Regions from separate parts of the Homo sapiens genome. Here region 2 is linked to region 1. The links come from fine-mapping of genetic effects on gene expression. Tissue or cell type: lung. Region 1 holds a variant in brackets; the other region holds the start of a gene. All regions are shown on one strand. Distances are from middle to middle.

What was found. PIP is the estimated chance that this variant, and not a neighbour inherited with it, causes the effect.
Region 2: PRKCI starts here. The variant in region 1 is fine-mapped to the expression of PRKCI in lung (TOPMed, PIP above 0.99).

Annotation. Positions count from the first base shown.
Region 1 is chr3:170,251,035-170,259,141 of GRCh38, forward strand. The region is part of intron 2 of PRKCI (protein kinase C iota); the gene reads left to right. Among named protein-coding and RNA genes, the nearest start is that of PRKCI, 33 kb to the left of the region's middle. The variant A/G (reference allele first, on the strand shown) is at 4,992.
Region 2 is chr3:170,218,834-170,226,922 of GRCh38, forward strand. PRKCI (protein kinase C iota) reads left to right here and starts at 3,591. Exons shown (of 18, transcript NM_002740.6): 1 at 3,591-3,937. The coding sequence starts at 3,837. RefSeq lists enhancers at 3,122-3,181, 3,252-3,311, 3,322-3,481 and a silencer at 3,662-3,951.

The DNA of each region.
Region 1 (8,107 bases):
TATATTCAAAGAAAATATTTAATCCACAGTAGCGACATAAAAATAGGTTTTAAAAAAAATCTAGTAATAAACCTTAGAGAAATTTGAAGAAACTATATAAAGAAACAAGAAACTCAATTGAGTGTCATAAAACGAAACTTGAATGAATGGTTTGGGAAAAAGCAACATTATACAAAGTGAATTCCCTGCATATCAATCTGTGAAGAAAACATTTCTCCCAAATTTCCAACAGGATTTTAAATCTGACAAAAATTTCATCAGGAAAAATAAATGCTCAACAATAAACAGGAAAATTTTGAAAAAGAAAGTTTGGAAAGAGAAGACTTTTCCTAATGTTGTATACAGGAATAGTAACAACTGAGAGAAAATATTTGCAACATTTACAACAAAGGATTACTATCTCTATTGTACAATAAATGCCAAGAAGAAATAGATGAAAAATCTACATAATGAGGTATAAATAGTCAATTCATAAATAACAGGCTCAAAAATCACTAATAATTAAAGAAGTTTTGAAATATTAAAGTGAGACATTACTTTTCACCTATTGGACTGGAAAATACAGAATTTAGTAATTATCTCTAAGAAATTAGGGCCAGGTGTGGTGGCTCACACCTGTAATCCCAGCACTTTGGGAGACCAAAACAGGTGGATCACTTGAGGTCAGGAGTTCAAGACCAGCCAGGCCAACATGGTGAAACCCTGTCTCTACTAAAAATACAAAAACTAGCTGGGCATGGTGGTGGGCGCCTGTAGTCCTAGCTACTCAGGAGGCTGAGGCAGAAGAATTGCTTGAACCCAGGAAGTGGAGGTTGCAGTGAGCCGAGATCACGCCACTGCACTCCAGCCTGGGCAACAACAAGACTGTCTCAAAAAAAAAAAAGAAATTAGGAAAGATTGGCCGGGTGCGGTGGCTCACGCCTGTAATCCCAGCACTTTGGGAGGCCGAGGTGGGTGGATCCTGAGGTCAGGAGATCGATACCATCCTGGCTAACACAGAGAAACCCTGTCTCTACTAAAAATACAAAAATTAGCCAGGCGTGGCGGCGTGTGCCTGTAGTCCCAGCTGCTGGGGAGGCTGAGGCAGGAAAATGGCATGAACTTGGGAGGCGGAGCTTGCAGTGAGCCGAGATTGCGCCACTGCCCTCCAGCCTGGGTGACAGAGCGAGACTCCGTCTCAAAAAAAAAAAAAAGAAATTAGGAAAGATACCCTGTTGGTTGAATGAATGTATGTGTCATAACTCTTTTGGAGGACAGTTGGAAATACTTGGCCAAATTTTAAATGGGCAGACTTTTTTTTGTTAATTTTTTACTTTAATTTTAATGGATACATAGTAGGTGTATGTGTTTATGGGGTACATGAGCTATTTTGATGCAGGCATACAGTGCATAATCATGTTGCGTAAATGGGATATTCATCACCTCAAGCATTTATCATTTATTTGTGTTACAAATATTCCAATTATACTCTTTTAGTTATTTTTAAATATACAATAAATTTTGTTGACTGTAATTACCCTGTTGTGCTATCAAGTACTAGATCTTTTTTTTCTTTTTTACTTTTTCTAACCTTTTTTTTTTTCTGAGACAGTGTCTCACTCTTGCTCAGGCTGGAGTATAGTAGCATGATCACAGCTCACTGCAGCCTTGACCTCCCATGCTCAAGCAGTCCTCCTGCCTCAGCCTACTGAGACTACAGGCTTGAGCCACCATTCCTGGCTGTTTTTTAAAATTTTTTGTAGAGATGGAGGTCTCACTGTGTTGCCCGGGGTGGTCTTGAACCAAATACTAGATCTTACTCATTCTGTGTGAGTATAGTTTTGTACCCACTCTCCACCACTATCGTTCCCAGCTTCTGGTAGCTATCATTCTACTCTCTATCTCCATGAGTTCAACTGTTTTAATTTTTAGCTTCCACAAATGAGTGAGAACATAAGGTTTGTCTTTCTGTATCTGGCTTATTTCACTTGACACAATGTCTTCCAGTTTCATCCATGTTGTTGCAAGTGACAGGATCTCATTCTTTTTTGTGGCTGAATAGTACTCCCATTGTATTGCTAGACACTTAAGTTGCTTCCAAATCATGGCTATTGTGAATAGTGCTGCAATAAATATGGGAGTGTACATATCTCTTCAATATACTGATTTCCTTTCTTTTGGGTGTATATCTAGTGGTGGGATTTCTGGATCATATGGTAGGTGTGTGTTTAGTTTTCTGAGAAATCTCTATACTGTTCTCCATAGTGACTGTACTAAAGTACATTCCCACCAACAGCATGTGAGGGTTCCCTTTTCTGCATATCCTTTCCAGCATTTGTTATTGCCTCTCTTTTGGATAAAAACCATTTTAACTGGAATGAGATGATATCTTGATGTAGTTTTGATTTGCAGTTCCCTGATGATCAATGATGTTGAACACCCTTTCATATACCTGTTTGCCGTTTGTATGTCTCCTTTTAAAAATGTCTGTTCAGGAGCCGGGCACAGTGGCTCACGCCTGTAATCCCAGCACTTTGGGAGGTTGAGGTGGGCAGATCTTGAGGTCAGGAAATCGAGACCATCCTGGCTAACATGGTGAAACCCCGTCTCTACTAAAAATCCAAAAAATTAGCCGGGCGTGGTGGCAGGTGCCTATAGTCCCAGCTACTCAGGAGGCTGAGGCAAGAGAATGGCATGAACCTGGGAGGCAGAGCTTGCAGTGAGCCGAGATCGTGCCACTGCACTCCAGCCTGGGCGACAGAGCAAGACTCCATCTAAAATAAAAAAAAATGTCTATTCAGGGCTAGGGATGGTGTCTCACGCTTGTAATCCCACCACTTTGGGAGGCCGAGGCGGGCGGATCACTTGAGGTCAGGAGTTCCAGACCAGCCAGGCCAACATGGTGAAACCCTGTCTCTACTAAAACTACAAAAATTAGCTGGGCATGGTGGCACGTGCCTGCAATCCCAGCTACTTGGGAGGCCGAGGCAGTAGAACTACTTGAACCCAGGAGGCAGAGGTTGCAGTGAGCCAAGATTACGCCACTGCACTCCAGCCTGGGTGACAGAGCAAGATCCGTTTCCAAAAAAAAAAAAGGAAAAATGTCTATTCATATCTTTTGCCCATTATTTAATCAGATTATTAGGTTTTTTTTTTCCTATTGAGTTGTTTGAACTCCTTGTCTATTCTGGTTATTAATCCTTTGTCAGATGCATAGTGTGCAAATATTTTCTCCCATTCTGTGGGTTGTCTCTTCATTTTTTTGATTGCTTTGTTTTGCAGAAACCTAAGTTGATGTGATCCCACTTACCTATTTTTGCTTTGATTACCTGTGATTGCGGGGTGCTACTCAAGAATTACTTGCCTGGACCAGTGTCATGGAGAGTTTCCACAGTTTTTTCTTTTAGTAGTTGCATAGTTTGAGGTTTTGGATTTAAGTCTTTAATTCATTTTGATTTGATTTTTGTATATGGCGAGAAATAGGGGTCTAGTTTCATTCATTCTTCTGCATGTGGATATCTTGTTTTCCCAGCACTATTTATTGACAGTCTTATTTATTGAAGGCTGTCTTTTCCCCAGTGTTATGTTCTTGGCACCTTTGTAAAAAATGAGTTCACTCTAGATGTATGGATTTATTTCTGGGTTCTCTCTTCTGTTCCATCGGTTTATGTGTCTGTTTTTATGCCAGCACCATCCTGCTTTGGTTACTACAGTTTGTAGTATAATTTAAAGGCATAGAATGTGATCCCTCCAGTTTTGTTCTTTTTGTTCAGGCTAGCTTTGGCCATTCTGGGTCTTTTGTGGTTCCATATAAATTTACAATGATTTTTTTCTATTTCTGTGAAGAATGTTATTGGTATTTTGATAGGGATTACACTGAATCTGTAGATTGCTTTCAGTAGTATGGACATTTTAACAGTATTGATTCTTCCAATCCATGAACATGGAATATCTTTCCTTTTTTTTTTTTAATGTGTATGTCTTCTTCAGTTTCTTGTATCAGTATTTTATGATTTTCATTGTAAAGAAAGAGATCTTTCACTTTTTTTTTTTTTTTTTTTTTTGAGACAGAGTTTCACTTTTGTTGCCCAGGCTGGAGTGCAATGGCACGATCTCAGCTCACTGCAACCTCCACCTCCCGGGTTCAAGTGGTTCTCCTGCCTCAGTCTCCCGAGTAGCTGGGATTACAGGGATGCACCACCATGCCTGGCTAATTTTGTATTTTTAGTGGAGACGAGGTTTCTCCATGTTAGTCAGGCTGGTCTCGAACTCCTGACCTCAGGTGATCCTCCCACCTCGGCCTCCCAAAGTGCAGGGATTACAGGTGTGAGCCACCGCGCCTGGCTGAGATCTTTCACTTCTTTTGTGATACTTATTCATAGGTATTTTTTTATTTGCAGTTACTGTAAATGGAATTACTTTTTTGATTACTTTTTCAGATTATTTGCTGTGGCATATAGAAATGCTACTGATTTTTGTGTGGTGATTTCATATCCTTCGACTTTACTGAATTAGTTTATCTGTTCTAATAGTTTTTTTGTGGAGTCTTTAGGTTTTTCCAAATATATAAGATGATATCATCTGCAAACAAGGATAATTTGACTTCTTCTTTTCTAATTTGGATGCCCTTTATTTCTTTCTCTTGTCTCATTGCTCTAGCTTGGACTTCCATTACTATGTTGAATAATAGTGGTGAAAGTGGGCATCCTTGTCTTGTTCCAAATCTTAGAGAAAGACTTTCAATTTTCTCCCATTCAGTATGATACTAGGTGTGGGTCTGTCTTATATGGCTTTTATCGTGTTGAGGTATGTTCCTTCTATCCCCAGTTTTTTTTGGATTTTTGTCATGAAGGGATGTTGAATTTTACCAAATGCTTTTTTTAGCATCAATTGAAATGATAGTATGATTTTTGTCCTTTATTCTGTTGTATCATGTTTTATTCTGTTCTATCATGTGATATATCACGTTGATTGATTTGCATGTGTTGAACCATCCTTGCATCCCTGGAACA[A/G]ATTCCAGTTGGTCATGATGAATGATCTTTTTAATGTGTTGTTGAATTCAGTTTGCTAGTGTTTTGTTGAGGATTTTTGCATCAATGTTCATCAGAGATATTGACCTGTAGTTTTCTCTCTTTTTGACATATTTGTCTGGTTTTAGTAATACTGATGAGTATTACTGGGTCTTAGAATGAGTTTGAAACTATTCCCTCCTCCTCCATATTTTGGAATATTTTGAGTAGGATTGGTATTAGTTTTTCTTTAAATGGCACTGAAGCCATTGGATCCTGGGCTTTTCTTTGCTGAGAGACTTTTTATTATGGCTTCGATCTCATTACTTGTTAGTACTCTAGTCAGGCTTTGGATTTCTTCATGGTTCAATCTTGGTAGGTTGTATGTGTCTAGGAATTTATCCATTTCTTCTAGGCTTTCTGATTTGTTGGCATATAGTTGCTCATCGTAGCCTCTAATGATCCTTTGAGTTTCTGCAGTATTAGTTGTATTGTCTCCTTTTTCATCTGTGATTTGATTTCTTTGGGTCTTGTATCTTTTATTTTTAGTCCGGTTAAAGGTTTGTTGATACTATTTGTCTTTTCAAAAAAATCAAGTTTACATTTTGTTGATCTTTTGTGTGTTTTGTTTCAATTTCATTCATTTCTGCCCCGATCTTTATTACTTCTTTTCTTCTACTAATTTTGTGTTTGGTTTGCTCTCGCTTTTCTTGTTCTTTAAGATGCATCATTAGTTTGTTCATTTAGCGCCTTTCTCCTTTTTTTGATGTGGGCACTTATTGCTTGCTATAAACTCACCTCTTAGTACTGCTTTCACTGTATCCCATTGGTTTTGGTAGTAGTTGTGTTTCTATTTTCATTTTTTTCAAGAAATTTTTCAATTTTTTTCTTAATTTTGTATTGACCCCCTGCTTAATAAGGGGCATATTGTTAACTTTCATGTGTTTTTGTAGTTCCCAAAGTCCATCTTGTTACTGATTTCTAGTTTTGTTCCATTGTGGTCAGAGAAGATACTTGTTAGTTTTTGTAGGTTAGTAACAATATTTGGATTATACTAAGGAGTTTTTATCTAGAGTTATAGAGATTTTCTTAGAATGCTGCCATGGTAGAGAATAAGTGGGTGGGTATATAGGGGAAAACAACATTTTGAAATATGTTTCAAATTTTCCAGATTAAACAGTTAAAAAGAACAGGTGGTGAACCTAGAGAATAGTGTTTTAGAAACCGAGACACAGGATTTCTTAATAGTGGGCAACTTTGTCAGGGACTGCAAGAGAGATCACCTAGAATAAGGACTGAAAAGATGTCATAGGTTTCAGCAGCTGGTTTCATGACCTTTGCAACCGCAGTTTTGGTGGAGTGTTTGGGCTAAAACCTGGCAGCAGCATTTTGAGAAATGTGTGGAAGGTAAGAACATGGAGAAAGGATATGATCACTATGTGAAAAAAAGTTGTTTCATTATAAAAGATTACAAACTTATGATTTTTAAAATATTAAAGAGAAGTATGAAGTGAAAAAAAACCCTGCCCCTTTTCCTTTCTCATCTTCTCACCTGTTTCCTCCAGTTTTAGTCTCTAGTTTTACTCTTGAGATTTGTGGCTACTGAATGAATGGAGTGTCAATCTGAATGGGAAAGAGAATTTTTTTTTTTTTTTTTTTGAGACAAAGTCTCGCTCTTGTTGCCCAGGCTGGAGTGCAATGGTGTGATCTCGGTTCGCTGCAACCTCCGCCTCCCAGGTTCAAGCGATTCGCCTGCCTTAGCCTCCTGAGTAGCTGGGACAACAGGCACGTGCCACCACGCCCAGCTAATTTTTGTGTTTTCGTAGAGACGGGGTTTCACCATGTTGGCCAGGCTGGTCTCAAACTCCTGACCTCAGGCGATCCACCCACCTTGGCCTCCCAAAGTGCCGGGATTCCAGGTGTGAGCCACTGCACCTGGCCTGAAAGAGGTTTTTGAGAGGGAGACTCAGAAACGCCTTTGCCTGAGAAGAGCTAGGAAATAGAAGGAAAGAAAAAAATGGAACAGAGGAGCTCAGAGAAGATAAAAGGAAGTAGGGATGCAGTGGTCAAGTGGGAGAAAAAAAAGGAGAGGCACTCTTTTCTTTGAGTAGCCAGGAAAAAATGACTTTGTTTTTCTTTCTCAATTAGCAGACCAAGCTGTATGCTGGTGATTGAGGTTTGGATAGGGTTGGTGGCATCTAGTGTGTAGTAACTATGGGAATTAGCAAATCAATGGCAGAGTGAAGGACTCACTTTCACTCGCTCAGGTCCAAACTAGGCTTTAAATGACTTCTTTTTTTTTTGAGACAGTCTTGCTTTGTTGCCCAGGGTGGAGTTCAGTAGCACAATCTTGACTCACTACACCCTCTGCTTCCTAGGTTCAAGCGATTCTTCTGCCTTAGCCTCCCGAGTAGCTGGGACTGCAGGCACACACCACTGTGCCTGGCTAATTTTTGTATTTTTAGTGGAGATGGGCTTTCATCATGTTGGCCAGGCTGGTCTCGAACTCCTGACCTCAACCCGCCTGCCTCGGCCTCGCAAACTGTTGGGATTACAGGCCACCACACCTGGCCTGAATGACTTTTTCACTGAGGAATGCCATAGTCCAGGCAGATGTGCCACCTCATTGATCGCCAGGGATGACTCAGTTGTCTGGCTAGTTGGGTAAGGGAGGTGTTTTTTCCATCACTTCTGTGTGTCTGTTACTAAAACTGTTCATTTATATTTCACAGCAGCTCAAGTGCAACTGTTCTTCAGTACTTTTGTAGCTTTTCATTTCTGTGACTCCTTTGAGGAGGCTCTGTCATGTGAAAGGAAAAATTTGATAAAATGATTACATGGAGACTTCTAACTAATCGTATTGTGGCAATGGAACTACTTTCACTTCCTCTTTTAAAGAAACAGGTAACAGAAAGCCTCCTCTTTAGACTTTCCCATTAGACACATAGCAGTGACAATTTAAACTGTGGTCAGTAGCCAGGCATGGTGGTGCACTTCTGTAGTCCCAGCTATTTGGAAGGCTGAGGCAGGAGAATCGCTTGAACCCAGGAGGCGGAGGTTGCAGTGGGCCAAGATAACACCATTGCACTCCAGCCTGGGCAACAAGAGCCAAACTCCAT
Region 2 (8,089 bases), 32 kb before region 1:
GGAAGGTTTAATACTGTTAACATGACAAAAACCACACAAACTGATTCACAGATTCAAGGCAATCGTTATCAAAATCTCAGCTGGCTTTCTTAAAGAAATTGACAAGTTGATCCTAAAATTCACATGAAAATGTAAGGGATCCAGAATAGCCAAGACACTCTTGAAAAAAAAAAAAGTTGTAAGACTCACACTTCCTTGTTTTAAAAGTTACTAAAAAACTACAGTAATGAAGACACTGTGATTATTGTCAAAGGATAGACAAATCAATCAATAGAATAGAATTTAAAATCCAGGAATAAACCCTTAAATTTTGGTCATTTGATTTTTGACAATTGTGCAAACAATTAAATGGGAGAAAAATAGTCTTTTCAACAAATGATGGTGGGATAACTGAATATCCACATGCAAAGAAATCAATTTGGACCACTTACATTAGACACAAAAATTAACCCAAAATGGATCATAAGCTAAAAAGTAAGAGTTTAAACTATAAAACTTCTAGAAGGAAATATAGGTGTAAATCTTCATGATCTTAGATTACACAAAGCCCTCTTAGACATGACACTAAAAACATATATAACATATAGTCTGGCACACAGTAAAACAAACAAAAACCATACGTGACAACAACAAAATAAATTAGACCTCGTGAAAATTAAAAATTTTTATGCTGCAAATAATACCATCAAAAATATGAAAAGATTAAAAAAATGAAAAGATAATGCACAGAGTGGGAGAAAATATTTGCAAATAATCTAATAAGAGATGTATTTCCAGAATATATAAAGAGCTCTGGCCAGGCATGGTGGCTCACACCTATAATCTTAGCACTTTGGGAAGTCAAGGTGGGAAGATCACTTGAGCCCAGGAGTTGAAGATCAGCCTTGACATTATAGGAAGACCTAGTCTCTACAAAAACGAGAAAAACAAATTAGCTGGGTGTGGTGGCATATGCCTATGGGCCTAGCTACTCAGTAGGCTGAAGTGGAAGGATCGCTTGAGCCCAGGAGTTGGAGAGCTGTGATCATGCCATGCACTCCAGTCTGTGCAACAGAGCAAGATCTTGTCTTGAAGAAAAAAAAAAGAAAAGAGAGAACTCTTACAACTCAATGAAAAAAGACAACCCAATTTAAAAATGATTAAAGGATCTGAATAGATAGTTCTCCAAGAAGATATATAAATGGCCAATAAAAACACGAAAACATACCCAACATCATTAGTCATTAGGGAGATGTACATCAAAACTGTAATGAGATACCACTTCACAACCACTAGGATGGTTATGATAAAGAAGATGGGAAAAAAACCAAGTATTGGCAAGGACATTAAAAAAAACTGAAACCTTCACTGGGTATGGTGGCTTACACCTGTAATCTCAGCACTTTGGGAGGCTGAGGCAGGCAGATGGCTTCAGTCCAGGAGATTGAGACCAGCCTGGACAACATGGCAAAACCCCGGCGCTACAAAAAACACAAAATTTAGCAGGGTGTGGTGGCACATGCCTGTAGTCCCAGCTACTAGCGATGTTCAGAATAGAAAAACTCATAGCAACAGAAAATATATTATTGGTTGCCAGAGGTTGAGGAGAGTGGGGAGTAACTGCTAATGGATATGCAGTTACTTTCAGGGTGCTGAAAATACTCTGGATTTAGGTAGAGGTGATGGTTGCAAAACTTTGTGAAGATACTTAAAACTATCAAATTTTACACTTTAAATGAGTAAGTTGTATGGCATGTGAATTATCTTTTTTTAAAAAAATGAGACGGGATCTCACTGTGCATTGTGTTGCCCAGGGACGGAGTCTCGCTGGAGTGCAGTGGTGCAGTCTCAGAGGCTCACAGCAACCTCTGCCTCCTGGGTTTAAGCGATTCTCGTGCCTCAGCCTCCGGAGTAGCTGGGATTACAGGTGCCCGTATATTTTATAATATATTCCATAATTAATCGCTCCGTATTAAACTTGCTGATGCAGGTCTCCAATTACTGAAAAACCTGATACCAAGTTTTTCAATGGGATTTTTTTGTTTGTTTAAGAGATGGGGTCTCACCATGTTGCTCAGGCTGGCCTTGAACTCCTGGGCTCAAGTGATCCTCCAGCCTCAGCCTCTCAAAGGCTGGGACTACAGGCATGTAGCACTTTGCCTGACTCAAGGGGAATTTTTAGTAAGAGTATATAATCCAAGTCTGTAGCAGTTGGAGGATGTCGTACCACGCTGAAGTGTCACACATAACTGATGACTCAGTCCCCCAAGCCTATTTTATCATCGTAAAGAAAGCTATTTCTTTGATTATTCCAACTCTTTCAGCACCAGGACTGCTGCAGGGGCTGGATTCATGCTACCTGTAGTTGCAGTGTAAATTATGTGTCAGAGCCAAGATCCTAGGAAAGTCAAAGACTAGGTTACAAGAGCGATTCTTTTTTTTTTTTTTTTTTTTTTTTTTTGAGACAGAGTCTTGCTCTGTCGCCCAGGCTGGAGTGCAGTGGCACAGTCTTGGCTCACTGCAACCTCCGCCTCCCTGGTTCACGCCATTCTCCTGCCTTAGCCTCCCGAGTAGCTGGGACTACAGGCGCCCGCCACCACGCCCGGCTAATTTTTTGTGTTTTTAGTAGAGACGGGGTTTCACCGTGTTAGCCAGGATGGTCTCGATCTCCTGACCTTGTGATCCGCCCGCCTCGGCCTCCCAAAGTGCTGGGATTACAGGCTTGAGCCACCGCGCCCGGCCAAGGACGATTCTTTCTAATCTTTGGTAAGCCAGTTTTTACAGAATGAAATGCTCTTGGATTGACTGACTTGATTGGGTAAGTATTCATTGGGCTCTTGTTCCATGCAAGGGCAGTCTACAAGGGCCTAGATATGGGGGCCCCCAAAGAAGAAAAATCGGTTTTTCATCATATTTTCTGGTTGAGTTTCTTCCTTTATTATATTTGTTACATATGTTATTAAATTATTTCCATAAAAGAGGTTATGCTGAGCAGGTAACCAAATTCTTGTTCCCCCAAAAGACATGTATAATTCAGACGATTTATGCAATTAGAAGAAGGGAGACTTCATCAGTTAATAAAGTCTAGAACGTGAGGAAGCCCAGTCATTTCCAGGACCTTCAGATGCCCAAGCTGGATCCAGGTTTTCCACCCCGACAGCTCCAGGGAGCACGCTGGAGAGACAGACTTCACCAGCGGGAAGGCGCGGCACCCTACGCGCAAGGAACCTCAAGTCCCAGAATCCTATGAGGACTCCAAATCCCAGAAACCTGCACGCAAATCTATCCCGGGTGCCAAGTCGGCCGACCGCAGACGTGACCAAGTTGCGAGGCTAGGGTGAGGTGTCGTAGAATTTGTCCCTACCATTGTCCCTGCAGGGAAGAGACTTTAGTGATCTAGAGCTGGTCATTGTCTCTTTCACAGCTCGCGTGAAAGCACCCCTCTCGGCGTGTTTGATGCCATGATCAGCGTCTCCCATTCCCTCTGTCCCCTTTCTCTGCCCCCGTAAGGATGGTTCAGCCCGGTATTGAGGCTCCTTGAGCTGGCTGGATGGTTGCGCCCGCCCTACCCCGGAATGTGGGCCTTTGGAGCGAGCGAAGTGGGAGGGACCGACGCAGGAGGTGTCTTGGGCCCGGGCGGCTGTAGAGGCGGCGGCGCCTACGGGCAGTGGGAGGAGCCGCGCGGTTCCGGCTGCTCCGGCGAGGCGACCCTTGGGTCGGCGCTGCGGGCGAGGTGGGCAGGTAGGTGGGCGGACGGCCGCGGTTCTCCGGCAAGCGCAGGCGGCGGAGTCCCCCACGGCGCCCGAAGCGCCCCCCCGCACCCCCGGCCTCCAGCGTTGAGGCGGGGGAGTGAGGAGATGCCGACCCAGAGGGACAGCAGCACCATGTCCCACACGGTCGCAGGCGGCGGCAGCGGGGACCATTCCCACCAGGTCCGGGTGAAAGCCTACTACCGCGGGTGAGTGTCCTGGGACAGGGCGGTGGGCGGGAGGGGACAGGCCGGCTCCACTCGGCCTGGAGGAGGGGAGGGTGAGGGGCTGGAGGTGTTGTGGGCGGATTGGGCTGGGCGGGCGGGCGGCTCCGGTGACTCAGGGTGAGTGACGAAGTGATAGGGGTGGGGGCGAAGCAAGGGGATGCAGTACTGGGGGCGCCCCCAGGTATGGCGGTGCGGGGAGCCGAGGGGCCAGAGTAGGGTCCGAGAAGGAAGCTAGGGTTAGAGTAGGTGCACCTGGTGTGGACGAGAGACTCGCCTCCTGAGAGCTTTGTAGGGGCCTTGCATCCTTAAGTCTGGGTGTATTTGGGGTTGCGAGTTGAGGATTCCAAGTGATGCCTTAGTTAACTCAGTTTGCTGTGGGGATAGAAAACGGGACTTCTTCAGTTAGCTGTCCGTTTTGATTACCAGCAGGCCTAACGCCTCTGGTTCTCTGAGATATACCTCCATCCCCGTTGTGTTCACGTAGTGTATCTGCACTGCCAGTATATTAGACATAGGGGTTGTATTTAAGAATCAAGTCGATGCGTTTTCAGGGACGTGCAGTGGGTACTTACGTGTCGTCAAGATTAAGTTGCATGTGTGTAAATCAAAATTTTGTGAGCCTTTCTTTCTCAGTGTTGTTTCAACGACTACCCGATAGGGTGAGATACTGCAAGGTGAGGAGACTAGCCTAGTTACAGTTTTAAATTCTCTGATCTTCACTCCCTTACTATGGTTACAAGAAAAAACCCAGTTCTAAGTTCATTGTGTTAAATCATTTTCTATCAGTGACGCAAAGTGCCCCCCTTCCTTTAAATTCAGTTGTGGTTTGAATTTTTTTTTGAGATAATTATGTTTAGGAGCATTAGAAACGTGAAATGTTAGTGTGACCATAAAGGTTGGAGACTGAGAAGTCACAGAAAACCCAGCTACTTTGGCTTGCCTTACTGCTTGTCCAGGTAGAAGTAAATTGCTTTAAAAAACTCAAGCAGTGCTAGGTTGAAATTTTAATGCATACTTTTACATTCCTGAGAGGATCAGTGAAGATAGCAAACTCTCAAACTACCTCTCTTGTTTTGATTTCAAAGAAAATCTGAGCCCCTAAATGTTGTATTGATTTGATGTAAGGACTTTTTTTTTTATTATTATACTTTAAGTTTTAGGGTACATGTGCACAATGTGCAGGTTAGTTACATGTGTATACATGTGCCATACTGGTGTGCTGCACCCATTAACTCGTCATTTACATTAGGTATATCTCCTAATGGTATCCCTCCCCCCTCCCCCCACCCCACAACAGTCCCCAGGGTGTGATGTTCCCCTTCCTGTGTCCATGTGTTCTCATTGTTCAATTCCCATCTGTGAGTGAGAACATGCGGTGTTTGGTTTTTTGTCCTTGATGTAAGGACTTTTAAATTTGCTGCCATGAAGCCTCTGGCCTCTGTTTATTATTAGCTTGACTGTATGCAGGAGTAGTTTATTGGAGTTATATTGGACAGTATGATAACTTTGTGTTTAAGCAGGTAAAACTGATTAAGGAGGTTTTTATTTTAAATCAGTACCAAGAAACGTGTGGATATTTTTTAAAGTTTGTAGTTGTCACAAGAGCTGTTTTGACTTGAGGATGGTCAGCCATGAACTTTGCAAGGTGAGAAAAAAGCTTCCTTTGCTTTTTTTTTTTTAAACCCTTACCTGTAATTTGATGAATGAGATGTTTCACTTTATTCTTTTATTTTATTTTTGTTTGTTTGTTTTTGAGACAGGGTCTTACTCTGTTACCCATGCTGGAGTGCAGTGGCACAATCTCGGCTCACTGCATTCTCCGCCTCCCGGGTTCAAGCAATTCGCCTGCCTCAGCCTTCTGAGTAGCTGGGATTACAGGCATGTGCCACCACACCCGGCTAATTTTTGTATTTTTAGTAGAGACGGGGTTTCACCATATTGGCCAGGCATGTCTTGAACTCCTGGCCTCAAATGATGCGCTCGTCTTGGCTTCCCAAATTGCTGGGATTACAGGCATGAGCCACTGCGCCTGGCCCTAAGGCTTTCAATAAATTCTTATTAATTGAGATCATCTTCTCCAATGAGTCTATGAAAGGTAAGAAATTAGTGCTTCTATTTTCCCATTTGTATTAGTTTGACACATGTAAATAGGCCCAGTTAGTAAATGAAAATCATTGTAAACTCCTTTGAGAAGAAATCAAAGTCTTGCTGTACTTCATGAATTTAGATAGCAAATTATCTTGGCTTATTGCTCCAGTTATTAAAAAGAAGAGAATAAGGACATACAGCTTCTTTAGTGTTTGACTGCAATTTTTCCAAGACATTCAAGGTAACATTGTCTTTTAAAATCTGTGAAATTTTGCTGCGGCGCAAATAACCTCTTGCCCATTGTATACTGGTCTTTGCTCAATGAAAGCTTTCTAATGGTACCTTCATTTCAAGCCTCATTTAAAGACAATATCAGCACTCTAAATTGTACCAAATTCCTGTCCTCTGAAATTAGATGTTAAGATTATGTGTTTGTATAGTCTAAACTGATGATTGTGGTATTACATAGTCAGCTGCTCATTAATATAGATGAAGCTAAAATGAGTCACGGACAAGGATAGTTAATAAACAGGTTGGCTAACTAGAACACCTACCTGATTTTAAAATAGAAAATCCTTCCTTTATACCAAGAAATGTGAGAACATTCTGCATTTGAAAAAGTTTTCTTTTCTCTCCAATCTTCTGAAGGGCCATTATTACATAGCATTTCCTCTATCCCTCTACACTTTTCTTTTCTTTTTTTTTTTTTTAAATAGAGACAAGGTCTCACCGTGTTGCCCAGGCTAATCCCAAACTCCTGGGCTCAAGTGATCCTCCTGCCTCAGCCTCTCAAAGTGCTGGGATTACAGGTGTGAGCCACTGTACCTGGCTCCACTACCCTTTTCTAACAATATTTCTTTCCAGTGAATGTTGACTCATTTAATAGCCAGCATTTTTTTTAGTGAAAAAATTGCCCTCTCTTTTCAAAGATGTGTATAGTGTTATTATTCTGTTAAGCTTGATCTCAGTGAAAACGTGTAATCTCTCTAGATCTAATAACATTTAATTTTTTTCTAATTTTTATTTTATTTTATTTTATTTATTTATTTTTTTGGAGATGGAGTCTCGCTCTGTCACCTGGGCTGGAGTGCAGTGGCGTGATCTCGGCTCATTGCAACCTCCGCCTCCCAGGTTCAAGGGATTCTCCTGCGGCTGCCTCCCGAGTAGGTGGGACTACAGGCGCCCACCACCACGCCCAGCTAATTTTTGTATTTTAGTAGAGACGGGTTTTCACCATGTTGGCCAGGTTGGTCTCCCAACTTCTGACCTCAAGTGATCCACCCACCTCGGTCTCCCAAAGTGTTGGGATTACAGGAATGAGCCATCTTGCCCAGCCAATTTACATCTAGTTTTTAAGCAAGAGATTAATAGCACTGAAAATTCAATTTTATTGGACACCACATCTTACTTAGATGCCTTTCTCATGGCCTGCACCCGTCTTTTCCTAGCAAGGAAGCTTTTCAGTGAGGGGCCTTCAGTTATTACCTAGTGCTAGTAGTTTGGAGGAAGAGAAACAGGTTTCATTAATTAGTGATAAACTGTCAATGTATGTGCTTATCCTTATATAAAATTACTTGCTATTATGGGATAGACTTTAACAAGGCAACATCTGGACTGCTCATTTCTTTACATTATATATGTATGGAAATTTTTGCAGAAAGCTTGTGAAAGTTCTTTTTAAACCGCTGCTGTCAAGTAGTAATAACAATACAGAGGATTCCTTCTGTGCACATCTAGAAATAAAAGATTAACTCTTTGCATATTTGGAATAGCTGCTTCAGTGAAGAAGTATGTAGGATTTTTCTTACTGTGAACAAGTCTTGGCAAGACTTGTTTTTGAAAGAAATGCAAGATTATTTTAGCAATATACTTTAGTAATGGTTCTGAGGAAATACAAGTGGTATCTTGAGGGTTGGGGGGATGTTAGCTAATTGGTCTTAGAGCTTCAGCCATGGCACCTAATCCTAGGGCAGCTGATCCATAGCTTGGCCAAAGAGAGAAAAAAATAGAGCATGCTAGCCTGGTGCCAAAAAACCCAAACCAAAC